Regions from separate parts of the Homo sapiens genome. Here region 1 is linked to region 2. The links come from fine-mapping of genetic effects on gene expression. Tissue or cell type: cerebellum. Region 2 holds a variant in brackets; the other region holds the start of a gene. All regions are shown on one strand. Distances are from middle to middle.

The links. PIP is the estimated chance that this variant, and not a neighbour inherited with it, causes the effect.
Region 1: it holds the start of ST7, and the variant in region 2 is fine-mapped to the expression of ST7 in cerebellum (GTEx, PIP above 0.99). The same link has a PIP of 0.9 or more in cerebellar hemisphere.

What each region holds. Positions count from the first base shown.
Region 1 is chr7:116,949,357-116,958,764 of GRCh38, reverse strand. ST7 (suppression of tumorigenicity 7) reads right to left here and starts at 5,264. Exons shown (of 16, transcript NM_001369598.1): 1 at 5,074-5,264. The coding sequence starts at 5,224. ST7-AS1 (ST7 antisense RNA 1) reads left to right here and starts at 4,431. Exons shown (of 1, transcript NR_002330.1): 1 at 4,431-6,319. ST7-OT4 (ST7 overlapping transcript 4) reads right to left here and starts at 4,917. Exons shown (of 5, transcript NR_002329.2): 1 at 4,656-4,917; 2 at 4,086-4,304; 3 at 3,612-3,791; 4 at 2,042-2,342. RefSeq lists silencers at 2,652-2,911, 4,509-4,808, 4,869-5,068, 5,279-5,348, enhancers at 4,270-5,193, 5,609-5,718 and a cis regulatory region at 8,382-8,707.
Region 2 is chr7:117,078,509-117,089,468 of GRCh38, reverse strand. The region is part of intron 1 of ST7 (suppression of tumorigenicity 7); the gene reads right to left. It also overlaps a transcript of ST7-AS2 not described here. Among named protein-coding and RNA genes, the nearest start is that of ST7-AS2, 62 kb to the left of the region's middle. The variant C/T (reference allele first, on the strand shown) is at 5,627.

The DNA.
Region 1 (9,408 bases), 130 kb after region 2:
TGCACTCTTAATATAATACAATATAGTGTGACTATAACTTTTATATGCACTGGGAAACCAAAAATTTCATGGGACTCACTTTATTGCAGTGGCCGGGAACCAAACTTGCAATATCTCCAAGGTAAGCCTGTCTTTTCTGCAGCTGAAAGGATCAGAAGGCAGCATGCCAGCTGGTCCTTGATAGATGGGTGGGATTTACAGATAGGGAAGAACATTTTAGACAACAGGCACAACAGGGGCAAAAGACCTATGTAAACTGCAACCAGACCCTCTAGAAGGGAAATCCAATTTTATGTAAATTTTAAGTAAATTAAAATCTAAATGTTAAGTAAATTTAGAGCAAAAATTCTCAACATGAAAAAATGCCAAAACTGAGCTGCAGCCTAAGTTCTATATCACGTCAACAATATAAGAGTTTTACATCTGTATTCATGAGCTTAATTAACACAAAAAAAAGTCTTCTAAATAACTTGACCAGGCACGGTGGCTCACACCTGGAATCCCAGCACTTTGGGAGGTGGAGGCAGTAGGACTGCTTGAGCCCAGGAGTTCAAGAACACAGGGGACCCTGTCTCTACAAAAAAAAAAAAAAAAAAAAAAAATTAGCCACGCACTGTGGTGTGCACCTGTAGTCTCAGCTACTAAGACTGAGGTGGCAGGCTGAGACAGGAGGATTGCTTGAGCCTGCAGGTTGAGGCTGCAGTGAGCTGTGACTGCACCACTGCACTCCAGCCTGGGTGACAGAGTGAAACCTTGTCTCAAACATAAGTAAATAAATAACTTTAAGCCTAGATCAGGCTATTACATTTGTTTTCCAAAAGGAATGAAAACGGATTTCAAAGATCTTTGAAAACTTGCTTTTCAGCAAATAGAAAAAGAATTGGAAAATCACTTATGCTGCTTTTTGCAAAAACAGCAAAGTTGCCCGTTTTAGGAAAAGGTGTTTAAATTCAGCAGCAAAAAACTTTATAACATAGGGTAGATGAGAAAGTGCCATCAACACCACTGTATAAGTTATGGTACTATTTTTTAAGACTCACCTATTTTAATAATATCCTGCATGACTGTGCCAATCTACAATTAATTTTCTGCCCTTTGGAAAAGTATTGCTTTATGATATTAATTCACTTGAAAACTGACAAGTAATATTATTTGGGGTCTTTTAAAAACCTTGTTAAAATTTCATTCTATTTTCAGTAAATCATAAAACTATTTTAACACTATTGTATCCAAATCAAGAGCAGAGCCTCAAAAATCAGTTACCAGCAGCTGGGCATGGTGGCACACACCTGTAGTACTCGCTACTAGGGAGGCTGAGGTGGGAGGATCCCTTAAGCCCAGGAGTTCAAGCCCAACCTAGGTAACATACTAAGACTCTCTTAAAAAACAAACAAAAAAAAAAACTATTATCAAAGCTAGCCACTATGTACTATTCCTATTATGTTCGTTTTCTCCCCTTTCTTTTTTAAAATTCATTTTCATTACAAGATGTGATTGCCAATGTTAAGGTTTCTCTGTATGGTCTAAGAGAATACTGTGGAATTCTTTGAACTATATCCCTACCCTAAATGGCACTGGCTCAATGCAACGAAGGTCACACGAGCCAAGCTGGTGGGAGTAGGGAAGTAGTATACCTCAAAAACAGCATTCAAAGCATTTTTACTTGGAAAACTACACGATGTAAGAGCTAAAAACGGTATGGTTGTTCATCAAAGTCCTTTTCTTTTATTATTTTAAATTAAATTCCACGATTAGCTCTTCTCTGAATCTGACCTGCACTTTCACAACTTTGTCCCTTTGTTTGGGAGGTCCACCTCTGAGTCCTCAATCATGGAATTCTCCTCATCCTCTTAGGCTCAATTCAAGAGAAGCTCTCACAGCCTTGCCCAGCCCCATCTTGCATATGGGAAGTTGTATTCTTGTAGTAAACTCCTTATTTACCCTGGGTTTTACAAACTCATTCATCTTTCTTATCATAGCACCTGTTATAGTACATTAGGAGGCATCTAAATTAAAAAAAAATCGAGTTAAGCTCATTTACCATAAAATATGATCAAATGAGGATTAAAATTGTCACAGATGGTCAAGATATTGAGAAGATACCAAGCAGATATCCAAGAATGACTCCAGAACACTTTTAGCAGATTCCATCCCCCTACAGGTACAGAGCTGGGCCTATGGAAGCCCTGGCTCCTGGCTGCCTGATTGTGATGGTGTCTTTGGCTTCCTTGAGGAGGAAGGGAGGCCTGCGCCATCTGCAACTCCCTAAAAGCAGCTCCAGATTCAGTAACCTCTCCAGGAACACACTTGCCTTCATCACAGGAAGAGTAAGCACCACAGGGCTGAAGAACAGCAAAGTTAGTCCCGTTAGAACTCTTTTAGACCTCCCTGCAAGGACAAGTTAGACCAGGCTAGCTCCTGCCTCCCCTCTCAGGGGTGCTGGCTAATGACTTCTTTCTCCCTGGGCCTTCCTTGCCAATAACTTCAGTACAGAAACTTTTTCCCAAAGGGGAGGGGAATTGGCAAGGAAAGGAGGGAATTAAGTTGACAACAACCTTTTGGCAGTTTTCCTACTATAACTTCTCACTGTTACTTAAAAGGGAAGAAAATAGGCCTCTAATGTCTGCAACTGTTTTTTGAAAAACCTAAACTGTTCTAGGGTGGTTTGTGGCTATAATTTCATGTCTCAAAATTAATGCCAAAGTCCTCCTCCCACCCCAGATCCTGCTACCCTCTCATAAAAACAGCAGAGAGGTGAGTGCTCTCTGTGTGCTTCCCCTTTTATCTTTCTTTATGACTGAAATGAGCATGAAACCAAACTGAAAAGTCCAGCATCATCAGGTCTTCTATCATGTGTCTAGCAAGGTACAGCCCGGATGGCACGTTCATCTTCATATTTTCGCTATCTCTTAGAACTGCCCCTACACAAATTAACAAAGGCATCTCTGAGAAATGCTAGATTTAAATTGCTAGAAGACCTAACAATGCCCTTCCTTAAGAAGTACACATTTTCCCAGTAGATATTTTGCTTCTTGCCTGATCTGCACAGAGCACTGGATGTGACACTTACACATATATACATGGGTAATTATTTAACCTGATGAAAATGTGATATACAAATGTATATCATGAAATAAAATTTTAAGTGTGTAATAAGGAGAAACATTAATATTTTAAAAACTAGTGTGTTTGAAAATCCCAAGTGCAAAAGTGTTGAAAGGTGGGACCTGTGAGTGGTAATTAGGTCATGAAGGCTCTGCCTTCAAGAATGAATTAATTTTGTTATTGAGGGAGTAGGTTTGTTATAAAAGTGAAAGTGGGCCCCCTCTTGTTTTCTCATGTTCTCTTACCCTTCCACCTTCCACCAAGGGATGACAGCAAGAAGGACCTCCCCACATGCCAGTCCCTTGATCTCAAGACTTCCCTGACTCCTGAACTACAAGAAATAAAATGTGTTCTTTAAAAATTACCCAATCTGTGGTATTCTGTTACAGCAGCACAAAACAGACTAACACTGTTACCAACAAATACGTAATTCCATTAAAACATATATTCAAACAACTTCTTAAAGGTATAGAACTTTGAGACCAGAAGGTATCCTGGAGACATACTTGTCTAAAGCGAAGAAGACAATATTGCGACAAGCAGCCATCCAAAAAGATGAAAAGCGAGAAAGCCATGGTCTTTCCGATGACAGACTCAAAAGGGCTGAGCAGCACCTATTCAAATGGTGAGACAATTCTAGAGTGCTGAATCCTATCCGCCTCCCAGGGACACGATCCCGAGGGATACTACAAAACAAATGTAAATATGAACATGAGTTCAAGTTAGTAATCAAAATACTTAAGTTAGTATCTGAAAGGTACAAGTTTCCTAACAAAATGAGTACATTATCTCAAGCGTTTTAAAAAGCGTTTTAATGCAGCTAAACACCTGAGGAAAATGCATTTCCAGACTTGCACTCCCAGAGTATGGAGATTAACAAGGGAAGATATATATGTGTACATATGTATATATCTTCAGGACTGTAAGAATTTCCCAGTACTGTGAAATTAAAATTTAAAACAAAAACAAAAACACTCTACCTTGAAATTTCCAGATTTAAAGGACTGTAACCCTTAGCTCGAAATTTACTTTGTGTTTCGGAACTCTCTGGAGTGTTAAGGCTCGTGTGTTTTCTTTGCGGGTGTTTTTTTAACGACTCAGTGGGCTGGCTCCAAGTTTGTGAAGATCCTGTTAATTACCTCCTGCATTTACCACCGACCAAGGATGGGAGGCACGCGGCACTTGCTGAGCATATGTAGCTTTACAGGGAAGGGAGACGAGCAAAGATCACTGAAAACTGCAACCGAAACCCTCAGAAATTCCAGCTCTCCCCTCTTCCCTCCGGTCCCTTCGACAATCCATTTGGTGACCTGACACGTCATCCATACACTCCCAAGAGTGCCTTCGGGAACCCCTCTCCCCACTACCCAACCAGAGAGACAGCCCCACGCCCGGCAAGACGCAACTCCGGGCCACGGAGGGCGCCGCCCGGACAGCCCGGCCGGGTCAGGGGGCTTCGCCGCCGAGCACCCTCCGGCAGCCGCCCTCGGGCCTCCGCGGCCGGGCGGGAGGGCGCCTCCCCGACCACACTTCGGCCGCTTGGCACCCACAGCCGGGAGGGCGTGAGGAAGGACTCGGTCTAACTCCGGGGAACCCTCGGAGTTCCGGCGCAGACACCCGAGGGGGTGTCCTGGGAACTCCTTCGCCCGCGACACCCGTTCTTCTCCGTCTCCCGACCACCAGCGACGCAGCAGGGCGGCTGCCGGCCCGGCCCGGCCCGCCTTGCGGGCTGTGCGCGGCGCAGCTCTTCCTCCGCGGGGCCGTGAAGGCCACCGGCCGCCCCCGCGCGCCCAGCTGCCCGGCCCCGCCGCCTAAGCCGCCGCGTTGCTGGCGGGTAGCCGCGGGCCTCCGGTGCGCGGGCCCCGGCGCGTCCCCGAGCGCGCGCCTGGCCGCGGCCCCGCGCGAGTTGCACTAACTTTCCGGGGCGGGGGAGGGGTGGGCGCCGCGGGCCCGGCTCCCAGGCCTTACCTGTGCTCAAGTTGTCGTTGATTTTCAAAGGCACCCGCAGGATGTAGACCAGGAATAGCACGATGAAGAACCACACGGTCCACAGATACGTCCAAGACCAAACTATGCAGGACTTGAGCTGCTCCAGAAAGCCCGTGGCCGCTTCAGCCATGTTTCAGCGCTCCTCTCTGCTGCCGCGGCTCTTGGTGTCTGCCGGGATGATTCACCGGCCCGGAGGCGCAGCTCGCGCCGCCGCCGCCGCCGCGGCCCGGGCGCCCCCGGAGCCCGCCCGCCGCCGGGGACGCGGGCTCGGCGGGAAATCGCGCGGGCCGCGGGCGCGCCGGCTTTTCCTTCTCCAGCCTTATTGCTAACTCTCTAAAGGTCCCTACAAGTGGCTTTCGTGGAGCGATCACGTGGCCCCTGCCCCCTCGCGTTCTGGGTCCATTTATATTTATTATGCTAATATTTAGAAAGAGAAGGCCAAGTGGCGCGCCGAAGGAAACGCCTCAGGCAGTTACAACCCGCATAAGTTGAGCGTTTACCACACGCCAGGCGCTGCTCCACGATCCGTACAATCTCATTTAACCCCTGCAACAATTCCCCACTACGATCCTCTTTCTATAGGTAGGGAAACTGAGGCTCACAGCAGCTGCGTAGTTTACCTTAAGGTGGAACCAAAATTCAATTGCAGTGGTGTATTCTGGGGTCCGAGGTCTTAAACCCTACTCTGCTCCCTTATCAGGATTCAGGCTCAGGGAATGAATAAACCCGGGACAGCTAGGAGAAGGGAGGAGGTGCGCTCCTGTCGCCGGCTAGTAGGCCTGAAGATAAATCACTCTATTCAGCAAGATTTGGGTGGCAGATGCTATTTACCTTTGTTCTGTCTCTTTGAAGCAGCGCAGGGATTTTCCAGAGAAATCTTGACAGATGAATGTTTATCCTCCAGGTTTTTTGGTGATCAGAGGTCAAACTATTCTCAGCCTGTTTTTAATATAAACAATTCTCTGGGATAATTTTGACTGTGAAACGGCCACCTCTAACAGAAAGTCCATTTTAAACATTGTTTTGTTGTTTTTGTTTTGTTTTGACTGTGCTGAATAAAATGTTTCTTTTATTCTAAAATGTTTTCTCAGCTGAAATTTTCAAGTCTGTTTCTGTCCGTAAGTGATTTGACTTTCTATGTATTAGATGGTAATGAGGAAATTGCAGGTTTTCCAGTCTACATCTATTTTTAAAATTCTGAGCATAAAGAATATTTTATTATAAATTGTTTTGCTTACTTGTATAATAGTTTCCTTCATAATTAAATAAGCTCCTTTAACTTTTCACATATAGGGCCTATTACGGCATACATAATGGATGGAACTACTCTTAAATTTTTACTAATTCCAGCCTCTCTCGGCTACTGTTTCTTCCTCACATTTGATCTACTACAGTGAGATCCAGGCCAGAATAAGTGAAATTGGCACACATAGACTTTCTTTATAGTTATTTATGGCAGCACATGACCAAATGATTTTTGTGTCTAACACTGATACATGGAATCTCAGTAAAATAAAACAATATTGTCACCAGTAAAGGATCGTGACTGCAGGTTGTCCAGGTTCTTGGCGTTTTGAACAAAGAATTGGACAAAACACCCAGAGAAGCGACAAAAGAACGAAAGCAGGGATTTATTGAAAACGAAAGTACACTCTACATTGTGGGAGCGGGCGGAGCAGCGGCTCAAAGGCCGAATACAGAATCTTCTTGGGTCCAAATACCCCCAAGAAGTTTCCCTTTGGCAACTCATGCTCATCTCACGTAAATGAAGTGGTAGCCCGCAATCAGTCTGACTGGTTGCAGAAAGCAGCCAACCAGAGGCTGAAATGAAGATACAAAGGTAACACTCCTGTGCAAACATCTGATTGGTTGCAAAAAACAACCAATCAGAGGCTGGGATGTACTTAATGAAGTTATGCTTCTATGCAAACGAAGACTCGCCCACAGTCTGATTAGTTGTGGACAACAACCATTCAGAGGCTGGAGTGAAGTTACAAAGTTGCAAATGAAGATTGGACCCGCAGTCAGTCTGATTGGTTACAGACAGCCAATTTCCCATCTACTAGGCAGAAAAGGTCAAAGGTAGCCTCTGGTCCTTTTGTTACTTAGGCGTGGAAAGTTAGGGTTTTCCTTTCAATGTAGTTCAAGGAAGTCCTTAGTTTCCCTGCCTCCAGAACCTAGTCTCCTGCCTCAACATGAGTACATGAACCACCTATTTTATGTGATGATTAAATAACCCACCAGATTCTCTGCGAGTCACTGAATTAGGATATTGACTACTTAATTTAAATGAACATCCGGAGGCCTGGCTTTTTGCTGTCAATGAACTTCAATGAATGGACATGAATATGACTCCGCTAAGTCACAATCTTCTAATTTTCTACTAGGCGCTCCTGGGAAGTCAGCCCTATATCATTGCCTCTCCTGGTGTGCATCCTGGCATGTGGTGGGGACTGTACACATGCCTTTGTGCTTCAAAACACTTCAAAACAGAAGTGAGTAAGCATAATCTCTTGCAAACTGTGGCTGCTTCAGTATAGCTGGAGTGCAGCCTCTGCAGAGTGGTGTGGATACAGACAAAGCTAAAGATACAGGCCTGAGTCATTTTGAAGGGCCTACTAGAAACGCTAAGGTGTTCATAGTTATGGGGCATTGCACACACCAATCCAAATGACCAACTCAGAGATTTATTTAAGTGGAGATTTAAGAAATATTAAGGAAGTAGATGGCTCACGCCTGTAATCCCAAAACTTTGGGAGGCCGAGGTGGGAGAATCACTTGAGTCTAGGAGTTTGAGAACAGCACAGGCAACACAAGGAGACCTTGTCTGTACAAAAAGATTTTAAAAATTAGCTGGGTGTGGTGGTGTGTGCCTGTACTACCAGCTACTCAGGAGGCTGAGGTTGGAGGATCACTGGAGCCTGAGAGTTTGAGGCTTTAGTGAGCTGTTATTGTGCCAGTCACTCCAGGGTGAGACCTTGTCGAAAGAAAGAGAGAAAGAGAGAGGAAGGAAGGGAGGGAGGGAGGAGGGAGGAGGGAGGAAGGAAGGAAGGAAGGAAGGAAGGAAGGAAGGAAGGAAGGAAAAGGGGAAGGGAAGGGGAGCGAGAGAAAGGAAAGATAGAGAAAGAAAAGAAAGGAAGAAAGAAGAAAGAAGGAAGGAGAGAGAGAAAGAAGAAAAAGAAAGGAAAGAAGGAGGAAGAGAAAAAGGGGAAGGGGAGAGAAAGGAAGGGGAAAGAAAGAAAGAAAGGGAGAGAAAGAAAGAAGAAAGAGAAAAGGAAGGAAGAAAGAAAGAAAGAGGGAGAGGGGGAAGGGAAGGAGGGAGGGAGGCGGGGAGAAGGGGAAGAAGGGAAGAAAGAGGCAGAGAGAGAAAAATAAAGGGAAGGAAGGAGTGAAGGAAGGAGAGAAGGAAGGGAGGAAGGAAGGGAGGGGAGGCAGAAGTGACAGGCCTTGGTGACTGATAAGACAGGCAGGGCAGGCCTGGCGCAGTGACTCACGCCTGTAATCCCAGCACTCCTTGGGAGGCTGAGGCAGGCAGATCACTTGAGGTCAGGAGTTTGAGACCAGCCTGGCCAATATGGTGAAACCCTGTCTCTACTAAAAATACAAAAATCAGCCGGGCATGGTGGCACGCACCTGTAGTCCCAGCTACTCGGGAGGCTGGGGTAGGAGAACTGCTTGAACCTAGGAGGTGGAGGTTGCAGTGAGCCGATATTGCACCATTGCACTCCAGCCTGGGTGTAGCAGTGAGATTCTGCCTCACACACACACACAAAAAAAAACAGGCAGAGCACGGATAAGGGGGGGGCTCTTGAGTGGGACCGTTAATGAAATAATGACACCCCAGATATGCCTAACTACCTCTTGATAATCACCCAGTGGAATGGCACACAATCACCAAGCTCATCACATGCAGAATGGAATGCATTACCTCTTCACCCTCATCTGTTCCTTTTAGAGTTCCATCAAGGAATGGGCACCATCCTTCCAGTTCCCTAATTCAGAAATCTGAGCATCATGTACCTCCTTTCCTCTCTATATTCCACTGTACATCAAGACTCAGGCCGCCACTTCTCTCAGCCTTTGGTGATAGCCTGATCATCATTCATAGAGAACAAGGCAGTGGGCTCCCTGCCTCTATTTGCACCACGGCAAGCACCACCACTGCCTCCTTCCATCCACTTTCCACACTTCTCTACCAGTTACCTTTTAAAGCACAAATCCGATAACTCGTTCCTTGCATAAAATTATTTAAGGCCCCACCCCTACTGCACTCCTACTTTTATCCCAGTGTCTAACTAAAGGATGGAATCTAGA
Region 2 (10,960 bases):
ATGTTATTTTTGTCACCTGACACACTATCAGATATTAACTATTATTATTTGTTGTGTACCTGCTTCAAACTGCCTTTTCTCCTCAATGTGCTACTTAAAAATCTGTTGTGATTTCAAAGGCGCATGACCAGCTTTGGCCATTCAATAGATATTCATATTCAACGTGTGGCCAGGTACTATGTAAAACACTGGTGATACAAAGATATATGATATATACATAGTTCTTATCCTCAAGGAGCTCTAGGTTTTGTGGGAGAAGCAGACATGGAGACAAATTGGCAGGCAATTATAATTCTGGTGTTGCTGGAAATATAGAGCTAGTACTCTTAACTCAGCCATGGGCTGGATGGAGTGAGTGACAGAGTGTGCATAAAGGAATGTTTCCTTGAGAAGGGTGCTAAGTACAGCCCTAAAAGATGTGCACTGGAACTACGTAAAATAACAGCTGTGTTTGAGGGCCAAAGGTAAGGCCTTCCCTTGGTAATTATTTTATGCTTATCTGTATGTACTATACGCACTGGCCTTTTTTTCTTACTTAGTGCTTGGTGCTCTGGGGAATTGAAATGTTTGGATTGCTCAGTTCTTGCAAGGTGCAGTGTCACTGTAGAGAGCTATTACATGCTCTTATGGGGTGGCTGGAGTGAGTGGTATAAAAGGACACTCCCATTTGTTCTTGTCTTCATACTGGAGTACTCCAAAGGGCTCTTCACAGCATCAGCCATGCAAAATGTGCTAGGACTTTTCCATTATCTTAAGGGGAATTTGTTCACTAGCTTCTCATTTACTCTTCCTATACTGGAAGTTATACCAAAAAATATTACAGAAACTTTAATAGTAAGATTTGGAAGATTACATGCTACAAAGCTGAATACGGCAATTCGTTACTTAATGTGCTGGAACCTAATAAAAGGGTTCAAAATACTCACAATAATCAACTGTTTGAACAGATAATTGTTAAATCTAAAATGCATGGAAATAACTAAGAAATGTAAGAAGAATATTAACAAGTATAACGGAATAACATCTATATTCTAAAACATCTTTCATATATGCTCTACATTTATTAATATCTAAAATATATTTAGCTTATAAAAAGTATCATACACTGAACTAGACACTGGGGGCAGAAAATAACATGATAATGAGACTGATCCTACCCTTGAGACAGGAAAATGAGATGGCTACACAAATAACACAGAATATGAAACATCTCAGAAGAGAAGTACAGATAAAATCTAGAGGAAGTAAACATTACTTCCAGCTAGGAGGGTTAGAGAAGGTTAATGAATGGGATGTCCTTCCTTCTGGGCTTGGAAAGAAGGATAAGCTTTGAACATGAGATTAGAGAGGAAAGAAGAGAGAGTATGGACTCTAGGTAGATATCACAGCATACATAAAGGAATTGGATTGGAAAACAGGGCGGATGAGAAGCAGTGGGAGAGAATGCTGGCTCAAATGCCAAGCCAAGAAAAGTGGACTTCATATAGCAGGCAGAAAGAAGATACCATTCATAACCAGAGATGTGACAAAGACAGACACATCTGGTAGCAATGGGGTAGAGTGTGTAAAATGTGCAGCTGCGGGAATTATTTCAGAGGGGAGCGCCTATAATACCACCAGAGAGGGGAGTTGAGCATATCAGATGTTGCAGAGTTAAATTCAACAGGATGTGGCTTTCCCAATGTGACATAAAGGGCGAGAGTCTGGGCATGTTGGTGAAGTGGGGCCAAAGTCAAATTTGAAGTGATTAAAGACAGTGAATAGTAAGGAAATTAAGGCAGCCAGCTCAGCTACTTCTACAGGCAGTCTGGCAGTAAAGAGGAGAGCATTTATCATTAAGTGTGACTTAAGTTAAAGATAAATGGCATTGAATGAGTTAGTAAGTAAATTATGAATAAAACTCATATCTTTTTTCTGCTGCAAGAACAATCAGCCCTTCTATGAAGTATAATACTGGTTCATTCTTACACCAAACTTTTAAAGATGTATGTATGGTTAATCATTATGAATGTGTCTCCTTTCTCTGAGATTCTTTTTTATATATGCCTTTAAGAAAAATTAAAACACAGAGAACTTTAACTGGCATGATTTTGAAACTGACCACTACACACATATGTATATTCCTGTTTTATCAGCCGAGATTACATGACAAAATAAAAATAAATCTATTTTCTATTCTATTTATTCTGATTTTTACACTTTTTATTAATCTACTTGCTTTGTTTTGAAACCCTCTACTAACTGAAAACTAAATAGTTTGCCTTAAAGGAAGATAATATATTGAGTCAGAGAAGCAGCTACAGGCCATGGGGTAGTAAAATTCAAATCTGATCCAAAGTTAGGTTTTTCTTTTCATTATATTCTCTAACAGTTCAATGACTAATGTACTTCTCTTCTGAGGAAAATCTGCCCCGCAAAAGAAGGCCTGCTGCAAGCTGCATTAAGAAGGCTGTCTTCCCCTGGGTGAGGGTGTGTAACCCACGGAGATAAGAAGCCACAGGGGAAACCACCACACAGGCCACTATTTTAGTATTCAGCTGCTCCAGCTGCATGGTTGTCCAAAATAAGCCCTTGGCTTTATTATTTTCAATTCCAATAACTACGTTTGGCTTTGCATTTGTACCTAAGGACCAGTTATTTTTCCAGAAAGTACCTAAAATTATCTCCTCAGGTCCTGGGCTGTGAACTCCGGTTAAATCACAAATGCATCTGGCTTTACGTAATGTCTACGGGTAACAGTCGGTGGAAACTGGAGCACTGATATTTTCAAATATTGGCAAGCCAGTTTAAAAAAAAAATCTATTAAAAGATGCATCTAAATTCCAGGTGCTTTTTGTTACCAAACAAATCTCAAGCTAAATTCATCCCTAATAAAAATGCTCCTAGCCCATGTAAATGGCATTTTCCCCTCTTAAACATCTATTCTTATTATCTCAAATAGTGTCCAAAATGGTCATCCCTCATGGTGAATAATCTATTCATCTGTAATGCAGAAGGAAAAAGAAAGAAATTTCATGTTTTTAATTAGCAATTGTCTAACGCCTAGATCCTTAGAATGCAGACAATGTTTCTTGAGGTGGATCAGTAATTGGTTAAAACTCAAGGTTAATGAAGCTACAGTCCTAGGTTTGAATGAGTCAGTCAACCTCACTCTAAGAAATCCTGTGCCATGAACTCAGAAGGTACCTCTGGCCCAGTTGTATTACAAATGAGTATTACCACTGGAAGGCCAACCATCATGTTACTATAGAAACAAACAAATGTGTATCCCCAAAATGGATGGAGATTGCTTTTGCTTTTCAAAGTTGTTTTCCCAAAACATTTTTTAAAATACAGAAAATAAAACAAAAAAAAGAAAGAAACCATTCCTCCCTGCCCCTGCTCAAGAAAGAAAAGAAAAAAGAAAGGAAAAGAAAACAAGGGGGAGGGAGAAGAAGGGAAGAGAGGGGAGGGGAGAGGAGGGAAGTTTGGTTATTTGATTACTAGCTAGGCTTAAAATTCTATGTCTATTTTCTCTAGTTTTTAATGCTTTAATTAATTTTTTAAATTTAATTTAATTACTAGTTCGTGTTGCCTTTTTTTCTATTGGAATGGCACTAATTTATAAAAGCTCTTAGTAAGTACGTTAATCTCTTATCTGTCATAATTGATGCAATTCTTCCCTTTTCTTTTAATTTCCTTTCTGAGTTTCATTTCCAGAATTTTAACAAAACACTTTCTACATAAAAATCGGGAGGAAAACATTACTGGAAGAAAAACCTCTATATTCAATTTGCTACAAAGTAGAATTTACTGGAATGTCCCTTTCTATCCTCTAGCTATCTTTCATGCAAAAAGCCGAAGGAACACTTTGAGAGTACTTGATAGCATGCAGAAAAACAAAAAGAAATCACTCCATTGAACATGTGGAGTTTCACAGTGCTCTAGGCAACTGTATAGCAAATAGTCATCGCACACATGCATACAGACGCTAGCCATAAATATTGTTTGGTAACAGAAGGGAGAATAAGCAGAGAGGCATGTCATTACATGAGATGACATGACTACTGGTTTAAATGTCTCCCCAAAACTGGAAAACAGACAGACACAAAACACAGAAACCATTAAAATGAGACATTTCTCAGCTTCATCACAGGCAAAACCAGATACATAAATGATGGGAATGTAACATGAGACAGACCAACAGCTGCAGAGAAAATAAAATAAAATAAGAACCTAGCTGATGAAAAGAAATATTCAAAAAAATCCAACTTGCAGAGTATTGGGGAGAGTATGTTTTTAATATAAAGTCTACCTCAGTGTATTATGAAACACAACCTTTTTCTCTTCTGTCACAGAGCACTAGTGACGTTTGGTGTTTTTCTCCCTTCCTTTATTCTTTTTCTTGTACAGAATCAATATGTATTTGCCTCTTATTTTCCTTTTCTTAGGAACAAGCGCCAGGACTGACTTAAGCATTACACAGATAGACATACCAAATTACAGAGAACAGGTATCTACTGTTCTAAAAACCTGGAAACAGAAAAAATGACAACCTAAAACTGATTTGCTCCTACCGCTTTTGAGAAAAGTAAAAACATAAAATATAATTTTATTCTCAAATTAGAATGAAAAATAGAATGCTCCCTGGTTCCTGAGAAATTTTTAAAACTTTTATATAATCACAATTTGTAATGGTTGAAAATTATTATTGGTACTTGAACTTTACTTCCTCCCACAAATAATAATAATGAATAATAATAATGGCAGCAAACACTCATAGAATCTTCATAAAACAACCAGCAATGGGCTAAATGCTTTACATGGTGTCTTAGTAAATTTTCACAACTTTGTGTTATTATCCTGTCTGTATCTAGAGATAAGAAAGTGAAGATTAAATCACTTAAGTCACTTGTCCAAAGTCACGCAGATAGACAGTGGCAGACCCAGGATATGAATTCAGGTACAACTGGTGCTGAAGCCTGAGTTCCTAACCATTGTTCTAAGGGCTTCTTACACTGGAAGGATCCCACAGCATTACTCACCCTGGGTTCACATAAAGCTTGTACCCAAGCATGTGTTCACAGGTATTTCCAGTTGGATTTCTTTCCATCTGTGTTGCCCTCAGTGGTCCAATCTTCCTTTTTCTTACCTGGATGATCATATCCCCCCAACCTGTCTCCTAGATGCCATCTCTCAGCACCCAATCTAACCCAAACTCTACACTGCCACCTGAGTCATCTTTCTAACACATGGGAATTGATCTGCTCCAGCTTAAAGATCACTAACACAAGGCATGACTAAAACAGATGAAGAAACTAATACCTAAAGATGGTAAGTGCTATTCCCTAGGTCATTTTTCTAGGAATTGGAAAATCTGCTGGTTTCTTAGCCTGTGCCTGAACTATGATTGACTACATAGTGTTAGAGTAAAAAGTAGCATTTTTGCTACTGAATTTAGAATCTCAGACTCAAGTATTTGGATGTCTATGATATTCTACCAAATGCCTATGTCCTCTACATACATGCTCAAATAATGTTTCAGCTTCCTTTTTCTTTGATTATTGTCGTTTGTTAATAAGGAGGAGATGGGAGGCGGAACCAAAGCCAGGAAGTTGGCAGCCACCAGCTTGCCTTAGTGCTGCCT[C/T]CATATGCTCACAAGGAAATCTCTGCACCTGGCCTAGCTTCTGTGCTGAGCCACAAAACAAACATGAATGCTTACTTTTTTTCTTTCTTGAGAATTAAGAGAATATGCTTCATTACATATATTTAATAAGTCATGCTATATAATCATATAAAATATATATCATAACTCTATATTGTGTGCTAATAATTTTATATATAATAGCTTTAATCCCCTAATAGATTGAACACTACCCCATTCCTATACTTATTCTATTCTATGTTCTTATTAAAATAGCAGAGAAATGTGGCCAGGCACGGTGGCTCATGGCTGTAATCCCAGCAGTTTAGGAGGCTGAGGTGGGCAGATTACCAGATGTCAGGAGTTTTGAGACCAGCCTGGCCAACATGGTGAAACCCCATCCCTACTAAAAATACAAAAAAATTAGCTGGGCATGGTGGCAGGCTCCTGTAATCCCAACTACTCGGGAGGTTGAGGCAGGAGAATCACCAGAGAGGCGGAGGTTGCAGTGAGCCAAGATTGTGCCACTGCACTCCAGCCTGGATGACGTCAAGAGCAAAACTCCATCTCAAAAAACAAACAAACAAACAAAAATATATATATGTATGTATATTACAAATTAGCCAGGTGTGGTTGTGGGTGCCTGTAATCCTAGCTACTCTGGAAGCTGAAGCAAGAGAATCGCTTGAAACTGGGAGGTAGAGACTGCAGTGAGCCAAGATCGTGCCATTGCACTCCAGCCTGAGCAACAAGAGCAAAACTCCGTCTCAACATAAAATAAAATAAAAATATAAAATAAAATAAAATAGCAGAAAAATGGAAGGTGTTCAATAGTTGACCAATTCCTAAACTGTGCTGAAATACATCCTGTCACTAGATATGTATGGTATTACAAACAGAGCGACTATTTAACCAACACACCAGACCTGTCTACATCAGGGATAGGAAAATGCAGTCTGCAGGCAAAATCCAGCCCACTGCCTGTGTTAGTAAATACATTTTATAAACACAGCCGTGCTTGTTAGTTTATGTAATGTCTATGACTGCTTTCATGCTACAACAGCTGAGTTAAATAGTGTAACAAACTGTACAGCCTGCAAAGCTGAAAATATTTACTGTCTGGCTCTTTACAGAAAAGGGTTTGCTGACCCCTGGTTTACCTTAAATAAAAGCAATGCTTCTCTGGTATTTTCTACTAAAGTCCTTCTAATGGCAGAAGAAAATAAGAATATATTTCAGGGGAGTTATGAGCCCCGCTTAAGAAGCACAGGTTTAAATGACCGTTTGTCCAGTTACATCATTTGGGAAGTCGATCAGTATCCCAATGATGCTGCCATTCCTCGAAACTTTATAAAAATCCTAAATATAGCCTAGCATACCTTCTTTTCAATATTCTCAACTCTGGTAAATATTATTATTTCAAGGGTAGATTTACTTTTTGTAACATGCAAACTGTGTATAGCCCAAACTAGTACCAGCATTAAGTAGTCAAATTGGGTATTTCTGGTTTTTATCATGGATAAATTATAACTACCTATTAATGAAGTGGGTGTTTCTATATGAGCATTGAACTGGTTCAGATATCAAGTGTGATGGTGAGATTTTGTGTGTCAACTTGGGTAGACTACTGCCCCTAGCTATTAAACCAAACACTAAGTATTGCTGTGAAGGTATTTTGTAGATGTGATTAAAATACACAATCCATTGACTTTAAGTAAAGATTATCCTAGATAATCTGGGTGGGCCTGGTTCAATCCATTCAAAGGCCTTAACAGCAGAGCTGAGGCTTCTCTGATAAAGAAATCTGACCTGCAGACAGCCGCTTCAGCTTAGACACAAGAGTTCCAGCCTGCCCTTCCTGATTAATGGCCCACCCTACCCATTTCAGACTTGCCTAGCCAGCCCCCAAAATCCTGGAACCCAACTCATTGCCTCTCTCTCTCTCTCTCTCTCAATCTCTATTTCTCTCTGTCTGTCTCAGTGTATGTGTGTGTAGCCTACTGATTCTGTTTCTCTAGTGGAACCCTGGTATATCAAGTCTAAAAATGTTTCAAAAATAATTTTAGTCATCTTTTACAATTGTCATTTTAGAGAATACCAATTCCTTGGATAAAAATAGCTAGCTAGAAATGAAACTCATTACTGTACAGTCACTATTATATCTGAATTCCTCATTCACTCTGGCAAAACATAAATTCTAAAAGAATCAAATCATGTTAAACAAAAACTACTTTAGAGTACTGGTTTCATTTCAGGTGTCATTGAAGTCATAAAAATCATTATGTCTCAGATAAACTATGATAGTAAAAAGATGAATGAAATGATTAAAATTTCTGCTACAGGTCGTGCCAAATCACACTTAAAATAATTTCTATAAAAATAATAAAGGAAATGATTAACACATTGAAAAAATTTAATAAATTGTGGGGAGGCATCCAAAGGTTTCCTGGATCTAAAACATCAAAAAGATGAATAATTTGAGAAGCATTTAAAATTGAAGCATTCAGACCTGCCATGCATATATTATTATCCTGGCCTTAATAAAGATTAATAAGAATGAGAAGAAGTTCTTAGGGCCATGTTAGGTACCTACTATGAGCACACTAAACAGTAGCTATTACAGTTTCTACATGTTAAAGTCCAAATTTTATTCTAGTCATATAACTATTGTTTTAATCAACATTTGAGGTAATACCCTTTTATATTTTCAAGTTATAATTTTTGCTTTTATTTGGAAATAAAATAACTAATATAATTTATTTTCTCTTCCTAGAGTGAGGTCAGCTAAAAACAAGAAAGAAATTTAAAGCATCCTGGGAAGTCATCATACCCTTTTTCTCCAAGAAAATCTAGTTTTGCTTGTTTTTGTGTATCCCACAACACCTGTGTTTGACTATCTTTTTCACTTTGGATTTGGATTTTGGTGTGATATACACAGTTCCAAAAAATCAATGGATAGAAAACTCAATGGCATAAATAAGGTTGGTATTAAAATATGCACAATAGGCTTCCTCTGCACAAATATGGTGATTATTAATATATATTCAACCAAAATATTTAAGTACCTAAATGCAGAATGTTTAAAGCTAGATTATCTATTTAAATTAAAAGCCTGAAATTTGGAATCTTCAAATTTACTTGCTGAAGTCATTCTGAAAATCTGATGGGTTCTTTCTCATCCACTCATCAATCCCATAAGTTCATACATGTGAATTGAGCATATTTTTGTTGTTCTTTAAAAATCACTACACACGTGGGAATTTAGCCTAAGGAGATAATAATAGGCATGTAAAAATATTTATCTTCAAGGATATTCAGCAAAAATATATCTATAAATATATTATTTGCAAAAGCAAAAAAACCTAAAAACTAAATATACAACAAGAAAAATGGTTAAATATTAAATATCTATATGATAGAATAGTATGCAGCCATTAAAAATCAAGTTATAAATGACAGGAAAATGATCACTCCATTTTAGTTTAGAAAGCAAATTATATAAGTGTGTGTAGTTTGACATCTTTTGTTTAAAGTGTATAGATGATACGTTAGCTATCTGTATAGGTACACAAACATAAGGACAGTTTCTGTAACATGTATCACTGAAAAATGGAATGACAAGCGGATCACGAGGTCAGGAGATCGAGACCATCCTGGCTAAAACGGTGAAACCCCGTCTCTACTAAAAATACAAAAAATTAGCCGGGCGTAGTGGCGGGCGCCTGTAGTCCCAGCTACTTGGGAGGCTGAGGCAGGAGAATGGCGTGAACCCGGGAGGCGGAGCTTGCGGTGAGCCGAGATCCCGCCACTGCACTCCAGCCTGGGCGACAGAGCGAGACTCCGTCTCAAAAAAAAAAAAAAAAAAAAAAAAAAAAAAGGAATGACAAACATTCCAATAGTGCTCAACTCCAAATGGTAGAACTGTAAGTGATTTTTTTTCTTCACTACAGACTTGAAATTTTCTACTCTATGTACTAGTGGTGTATTTTAATCAGTGGAAGAAAAGGTTTCTTAAGCATGACATAAAACTAGAATCCATTAAGTAGTTGTCTTTGGAGGATAGAATTACATGGAACTTTTATTTTACACACTTTTTCCATTTTCTCTAGTCTTAAATATTTTTAAACACACTTGTTTTATTTTGGTAACAAATAAAAGCATATATAGCTTTAAAAACAAACAATACAGGCTATTTTCTAAAGCAGGAATTTAGGGGAATTTTCAAAAAATATTTCAGTTTTATTTCAGTTAAAACAAGTTATTTAAGAATAAGTTGACAGAATAATAGCAGCAACAACATCAAGAAGAAAATCCTCCTGTCTTAAAAAGTTTTTCTAAAAGAACCAATGAGAAAAAGTATTTATATGTGTATATGTAACCTGAATTCTAGTTTTAGAAAGATAGTACATGAACATGAAACAATTTTTACAGTTTGCTACAATCACAAAATCCTGTATGAAATTATAGTTGTCCCTCAATACCCATGGAGGACTGGTTCTAGGAATCCCCTCACCCTGTGGACCCCAAAAGCAGAGGATGCTCAAGTCTGTTACATAAAATGTCATAGTATTTGCTTATAACTTATGCACATCCTCCTGTATACTTTAAACCATATCTAGATTACTCATAATACCTAATACAATATAAATGCTACATAAATAGCATTTACTCTATTGTTTTACTCTATTGTTTAGGGAGTAATGAGTAAAAAACAAATGCTATCCATGTTTAGTACAGACGCAACCATGCATTTTTTTCAGAATATTATTTTCAATATGCCATTGACTGAATGAATCTGCAGATGTGGAATCTGCAGATTCTTGGGGCAGACGGCATTTGTTTCAGTGCATTTGTGACTACATATGAATAACACATAGATTTATTGAAGAACCTAAAAGAGAATGAGAGGCACTTAGGAAACCAACAACTCTGACTTAATATGAGCAGAATGCACCCAAGCACTATCCTCCAACCTTCAGTGTCACAGTGGGCTGGTGTCATGACTTAATTGCTGAGTTACAGCTAATTATAAGGTAAATGAAACACTAAAAGAGAATTCACCCCAACCAATTAACTGAGTGGTTATTAATTGTACTGGAATGTCCTACATATGCTAATTCAAACCCATAACAACATCCATACAACCATGACTCTTCTTGTTCTATCCTTTTTCAAGCTTTATAATAGTAGAAATGACCCTGATGCAAAGCATCTATCTTGCTACCATGTGGCTGACATTCAGCTCTGTCCAGCTCGACATAAATTTCTATGCCTCACTCTGGGTTTTAAGCAGTAACTTAAAACTGCATGATTACTGCATGGTAACAAATTGATAAT